Linked DNA regions of Homo sapiens. The protein of the gene in region 1 interacts with the protein of each later gene in a biochemical or structural test. Each region holds a gene or a part of one and is shown on either strand. Other genes may lie near its edges.

What was found. The genes of interacting proteins can lie anywhere in the genome.
Region 2: the proteins of SPTB (region 1) and ADD1 form a complex in vitro, tested with the Homo sapiens proteins (one study listed by BioGRID).

The regions. Positions count from the first base shown.
Region 1 is NC_000014.9:64,873,285-64,877,036, forward strand, and holds part of SPTB (spectrin beta chain, erythrocytic), read right to left. Parts: intron 1-3,752.
Region 2 is NC_000004.12:2,902,768-2,906,519, reverse strand, and holds part of ADD1 (alpha-adducin), read right to left. Parts: intron 1,757-3,752; coding exon 1,412-1,756; intron 1-1,411. UniProt on the Homo sapiens protein: Membrane-cytoskeleton-associated protein that promotes the assembly of the spectrin-actin network. Binds to calmodulin.

The sequences.
Region 1 (3,752 bases):
CATTCACTGTTACATTCCCTGGGCCTACAGCATGTCTGGCAAATTAAATGAGAACTCAGTAAATATTTGTTGAAGACTGACATACAAATCAAGGCCCTCAAGATCACTGGACAAAAAGAGGCTGCTGAAGTCCAAAATGAAGCATAAGCACAATAATGCCCAGTAAATTTGGGGTAAAGGAATGAAAAACCCAAAACATCAATTAACGGGCAGATGAACCCTTCATTTATCTATGGCATGCTACTGAGAATCCATTAATTCATGCTTTGGAACAGCATCTGTGCATACTCTGGAGGGCCATTCTTGAGGTTCTGTGGCTATGGTAAAGGGTAATACCATTAACAAGTGTCTTCTCTCCAGAACCAATGAACTTATGTGGAATATTCTGCTGAAGAAAAAAAGCAACCGCGGTCTCAACCAGAAGGCCCAGAATATTCAATTACTCCACTGAGAAGACCTGGAAACAGCCCCAGCCTCAGAACTAGGCAACTGGGTCAAAGTCAGGTTTTGGAATAAACTACTAGAGGGACATTGAGTATATAAATGTACATTTCTAATCCTGTTTTGTAACTGGAAACCAGGAATAATCAGATCTTCCCTTCACATGCTCATCATAAGATAAAATAAGATGATGTGTAGACAAAGGCATGCTGAAAATTGAGTGGACTATAGTTATCTGTGATCATCATCTTGTACTGGCTGGGATCTAATTCACTTTCTCTTCACTGCCACTGGTGAGCTTTGTCAACAAAGATTTCATCACACCCCTTTATGACTTAAAAACTTCCAGTGGCTCAAACTTCTTCACAGGCTGAACCCCAACCACCTTTCTGGTCACACTTCTGCCATGTGGAACTACACTTCATCCCCTAACCTAATCATGCTTTATTGTCTGTGCTGGGCAATTTCCTAAAGCCCCACTCGCAGGCCCCCTCATCCTCCCTTCTTCCATTATAGAAATCCTAGGCACTTTCAAAGGTCTTCTCATTCCCCAACCTGAATGAGATGTTTCCTCCTGTACACCCTCTCTCTCAGGCATCCTGTTGAATCACTGCTTGTTTGCAAGGCCATTTTCGCACCAGATCAGTGATTCTCCATCTGATCTCTTTGTGTGTCTTCAGCACATAACAGTGTAAGACACGTGGTAGACACCCAATGTCTGCTCTTTTTGAATACACCTCAATTCTCTCTCGGGCCTTTCTACCTCTAACTCTCTATGACTTATGACTCGAAGTCAGTATTATGAAAGGCCTTTTCTTGCTTTTCCACCCTTCTGGAAATATACTGGAAGATGAAGCTAATTGACCACTCCTAGGGTTCTTCTAGAAACAGGCTGGGACTCAAAAGAGGGACAGAATAAGGTTACAGACTTCTTTCTGGTCCACATAATTTATGCCTTTAAAGTATGCTTTGTTTTATTTGAATTGCTATACATTCTCAAGTGAGACACGCCCATATTTAAGTCTGGTACAAATGGAAAATATTTTCAAAGTATTCATTTTCGGAATTATTCAAGTTTCTTCTCCTTTTCACAATGGTGGAAACTCCTAAATTGACTATAATTCGAAGCAATTATTGTTCTTTAGCTATCAAGGTGCCGTTAGTCTCTTCATAAATATCCTGGATGATCTGAGCCTGGTTCAATGCAAAGCCTATTTTTTTTTCAGCCCTGTGCCTTTTCACTTGCTAAATTTATAACATTCAAATGAAAGAAAGGAAGCCCACTTTTGCCCCCACTGCTCACATGATATATGCTGAGTTTTAATTGCCCTTGTAATTCTACCCTCAGCCAGGTCTGCACAGGTATGATGTGGAAATAAAACATTATGGCAAAGCCTGAGAAGGGCTTGCTGAGGTAGGAAGAAGAGGGCTTTGTAATATTTCCTGCAACCAGGAAAAGGAAAGAGAAAAATGAAAGGTGGTCTGGGAATTTGATAAGCTAGCCAGACAATTCATTAAGGAAGCATTTTCTGTCTATGACCACCTCTAAGACTACGTGAGCTATAAAGGCTAGGGATCCCCTGATGGTTTGATATTCAGCTGAGGCTGGCTGAAAATGGAAGAATGTGGATCACTTGGCTGTGAATTAAGAAATACACGCAGCAACAGAGGGAAACACACTATGGCATTTTCTAAATATTTACCAAGGGGAGTTGGCAATCCGTGAGCAGAGCCAGATCTGACAGTTAATTCTCCTGACTGCCTCCTACGCTCTTCCTCAATCACTATCTCCATCTCCAAAACAGGTGACCTTCCCCTAATGGGGTGAAGAAGGAAGCATCTCTGTGATAAACCCAGCAAATGCCACATGATGATTCTGGCACACAGACCACTGCATCTACTCTTCTTCCTCAGATTTCTTATCTAAAACAGAGGAGTAACCTACGATCTGTCTGTTAAAATCAACTGAGTCAATACAAGCTGCTTCAAAGATAAAATTCTTCTTTCCACAGTCATTTTTGGCTTGTGATATCCATATGGTTTCAGAACCCAGTATCCATGAACTTCCTTGCCAGTCCTCATTATATAATCAAATTTCTCATCAGCCCACATAGCACAGTTATTTTCACTCTTGATCTTCCCAAGTTCATTGATAAATGTTAATCTGTAGGTCTCAGGTTATTTTTTTAAATTCTATAATTTTAAAATTCCATAACAAAGAAACATATTTTAAATCACTTTTTAATTAATTCATGAATTAGAGATGGCACCTCATTCTGTTGTCCAGGCTGGAGTACAGTGGCACAATCATAGTTCAGCCTCTCTAACTCCCTGGCTCAAGCAATCCTCCTCCCTTAGCCTCCGAAGTAACTGGGATTATAGGCATAAGCCACTATACCTGGCTTTTTTATATCAATTTTTTGTTTGTTTGTTTGAGACACAATCTCACTTTATTGTCCAGGCTGGAGTGCAGTGGCGCGATGTCGGTTCACTGCAACCTCTACCGCCCAGGTTCGAGCAATTTTCCTGTCTCAGCCTCCCGAGTAGCTGGGATTACAGGTGCCCACCACCACACCTGGCTAATTTTTGTATTTTTAGTAGAGATAGGTTTGGCCAGGCTGGTCTCGAACTCCTGAGACCAGCCTGACCAGCATGGTGAAACCCCATCTCTACTTTAAATCTCCCACTGGTCATGTTTCCTACCTTTTCAGGTCTTGAGCAGACAGTAAAATTTTGTGTTTGATTTTGAAATTAAAGTGCTGCTCTTCAAGAACAATTTGGTGATTGGGTTTAGGTTAAAACACGTATCTGACGGTCTCAACAGTTCTCTAAAGTCCTTCCCCATGCCCCCCAAAAATGGACATAATTACTTAAGATTTCTTGTCTCTAGATCGTAATGTGTATAACTATTGTTTTAAAATGTATACATGTGTACACCTTACAAGCAATGGGGGAGATTATAGAACAGTTTAGAGTTTAAAGCCTGAGACTGCCTTCTCTCCTGCTTATCCTCAGTACCTTTTCTTTAAGATTGCACTAAAATGAAAGGACTAGATATTAAAAACACATCCTCTCATAATCTCCTCCAAAGGAAATAAAATCTCAGTAGTTTGGTTAGGCAGAACTTCAGGAAGTAAACCATATTGGCCTTGAGAGTGAGACAGGAAAGAAATGAACTCGAGTAATAAGAAGTGTGGGTGCCATAGCTACACATCAATGATCAGGTACATTCAGTTAGGTCTTGCCTTTAAGCCAGTAAGTATGCACATGGAAGGCTGGGTTCAGTGACCTCCAGAATCCCTTCCCTCTCC
Region 2 (3,752 bases), on another chromosome or scaffold:
GTTTTGCAAGCTAATGGTAAATAAAGCTCGCGCTGCTGCCTAAACGCTTTGGAAAACTTCCTCATGGCAATTCAGCACTGTGCTTCACATCAGCCGCAGAAAGGTGTTTTGGGGTTTTTTTTTTTTGTTTTATAACGCCCACTTCCTTTAACAAGTGAAACAAGTAAAAAATAAACAAATGAAAGAAAAGGGGAGACAGGAAGAAGGGGGGAAAGAAGACAAGGAGGGCAGGAAAGAAGAGGAGAGACGCACTCCCATGCTCAGAGCCCCATGGCCACACAGGGTCCCTGCCCAGGTGACGCGGCCGCTCAGGAGCACGGAGGCTTCTCACCAACTGCGTCAGGAAAACACCAGGACCACCTGGGGAAGATAAAACTTTTTTTCTTTAAATAAATCTATAAAGTAAAACACTGTTACAAGGGGAAAAGAAAGCCCCACTTTATGTATTTGGTTGCCCATGGTTTTAGGAGCATCTAATCTAATTTCAACTGAACTCCTAATGAACTAGTCATGCACAGATGAGTCTGCTTCAGCCCCTGTCTCCTCCATTCCAGGGGCTTCTGGAAATGGGCCTCTTCTACATACAGTTTAAAGCAGAGCTGGGTGGACTGTTAGAGGTAGGTTACAGGAGGAATAAAGACCCATCTTCAGAGGAGGTCTCAGCACCACGACATGGGAGCACCTCTCAGGACAAACGATAACTTGAGCGGCATTAACGCTGAAACGAAGCACCCCTTGCAGCGTCTGTCGCTGGTGCCTGCAGATGGCCTGCGCTGCACTTGGGTCATGCCGCACCCAACAGGAGTCAGAAGGTGACTCGCCACTATGGCCGTCTACTCACATGCAACAGTCCATGCAGAGGGCAGCTGGGGGTGTGCATTCGGAGGCTTTGGGATAGAAAGCAGGGGAATAACACTAAGGGCAGGGGACAAGAGTCAGCAGAGAACACGCCAGGGAGCCACAAGGGAAAACTGCTTAAGAAAACACTGAAGACTTAAGAAACTTTAGTGACTTGAAACCACTGGAGTTCACAACACTAAAATACAGGTTTAGGACTGAAGTGTCTTTTTGTGCATGAAGTATTAAGAGTCCCTGAATATAATTTGAATTAAATAAGAAGAGCTCCTATTTGTAGGTTAATACATGTAAATTATTGTATATTTTTGCTATATACGGAGATATACTGGAACTACTGCGGAGTTACATTACATCTTAAGCAGTTTCAAGCAGATAGTATTATCCGAATTTTAGTAATGCATTCAGTGGACTTAGGTTCAGACTACAAGAAAGTGAATAAGGAAGGTTCGCTTTACACCTGGGTCAGAAAGGCTGGATTCCCAAAGCCTCCGAAGCCCCAGCTACCCAACTTGCTCTACGTCATCTAACTATGAACAGTAAGGTAGGCACAGACCAAGCAGTTGGTAATACAGCTTGGCACGCAGACACCGGACGAGAGAGACTGCAGCAAGGGTTTCACGTGATCGTGTGTAATGTTCGTCCACACCTTAGTCTTCGACTTGGGACTGCTTCCATTCTGCCCTTCCTCGGAAGCTTCGTCGCCCCGGCCAGAGTTCAGCCATCTTGTCTTCTCCCGCTGCTGCTTCTGAAAACTGTGTCTGAGTGGGGAGCAAGTGCCCGAATCACCGTCACTAGCAAAGGAGTAACCTGTGACACTAGCAGGAACCTCCACATCGCTGTATTTTTTAGACTTCTCTCTCAGAGCAGGGTATCGATAAGGGTAGCCAGTTCTGTAGCCCTAGGGTCCAAGGAGAGTGAAAGACAGTCAATATTCCAGATCTCAAAACAGGGTTTCACTTTGGAAAATCATGTGGAAACATCCACAAAAGTTGAACACATGCATACCCTATGACTCAGTAATTCCACTCCTAATTTTACACCCCACAGAAGCAAATGTGTTCACCAAAAACCAGGTACTAAAATGTGGACAGCAACCCTACTCCTCGTAAACCACAATTGGAAACAACCCAAAAGTCCATCCATATAGGAGATGGATAGTCTAGTGTCTTCATAAGAAGGCTTATAGTGACACAATGTGCTCTAAACCAACCACGTGGATGACTCTCCTGAAGGCAACGCTGAGTGAAAGAGACCAACCTGCAAAGAACATACACCATGTAATACCATTCATTAAAAGTGCAGAAGATGCAAAACAACCTTTGTTTTGGTTGTCCTGGGAGACAGGACAGTTGTCACCCCTGGGATGGGACAAGTGAACTGAAGGAGGTGCTGGGGGTGTTCTGAGGTGCTGCTACCGTTGCTCTTATTGACTGCTGGTTATACAGGGGGTTCAGTTTTTAAAAATGAACAAACTGAACACTTGCGGTAGGTGCACTCTCCTGCTTACATATTTCAACAAAAAATTAAAGTTGAACACCCAAACAGGGTTTACTTGCTGCCAGCCACTGTGCAGGTTATATTCATCAACATACTTAATAGACTTTTACCTCTTAAGTTACAGTTTAAATACTGTGATAATCTTTAGGTAAGTAAGGTAAGTAAGTATACCTCATGACAACTGGTTCTCAGCAAAATTACTTTACGTCTGAATACAACAACATTCAAATTCACCTCCAGCTCTGCCTCATGACCATGTGCTCTGTGGTAAAAGACAGCCCCACTTACTTCATGCCTCTACTGGACCAACTCATCTGCAGAGTCCTCCCACAGACAGCATCTCTAAGGGCATGGACGGTGTCCTCTGCATCTCTCCTGGCCACACTTGGTAAGTGTGACAGACAGACTTCACAGTGGCCCCAGGCCCCCAGCTCCTGTAATCCCCTCCCACCTTGAGCACAGGTGAGATCTCTGACTTGCTTCTAAGTAGCGGAATTCACAAAAGGTGATGATGGGCTGTATCACAGAAGAGTTTAGCACCTATCTTATAAGAGTCTCTGTCTCTACTGCTGGCTCTGAAGAAGTAAAGCTGCCAAGAATGCTTCAGCCCTAAGAAAAGGAATTCTGTCCCCAGTCTAGAAGAGCCTGGATGTGGATCCTCTGAGTCAAGTCTCCTGATGAGAACCCAGCCCTAGCCAACACCCTGAATGCAGCCTTTATGAGACCCTAGGTTGAGTTCGCTGTGCCTGGACTCCTGCCCCACAGAAGCTAGGAAATAAATGGCTGCTGTTCGAAGCCACCAGGCCTGTAGTGATTTGTTGCCCAGCACAGAGAGGTAATACGGGGGATGCTGAAGAGCTGTCTGCTCAACAACCTAACAGATTCGCACCTGAACCAAGTCACTCACAGCACCTTCACAATACATCACAAGAGAATCAGGACTTGGAGGGACTGCACAGGGTCAGACATACAAGACACTTCAGTGGCCTGTGCCCTGCTGGCTGTGGTACTCTAGAAACAGTCCTCTCAATTCAGAATTCTCTCTCCCCTCTGGGTACTGCTCTTTTTTGGGGGCCATCTTCATTACTAATCACTCTTTCAATATTTTTTTTATTTTTTTAATTTAATTTTTTTTTTTTGAGACAGAGTCTCACTCCATTGCCCAGGCTGGAGTGCAGTGGCGCCATCTTGGCTCACTGCAACCTCCGCCTCCCAGGTTCACACTATTCTCCTGCCTCAGCCTCCTGAATAGCTGGGACCACAGGCACGTGCCACCACACCCGGCTAATTTTTTGCATTTTTAGTAGAGACGGAGTTTCACTGTATTAGCCAGGACGGTCTCAATCTCCTGACCTCATGACCCACCTGCCTCAGCCTCCCAAAGTGCTGGGATTATA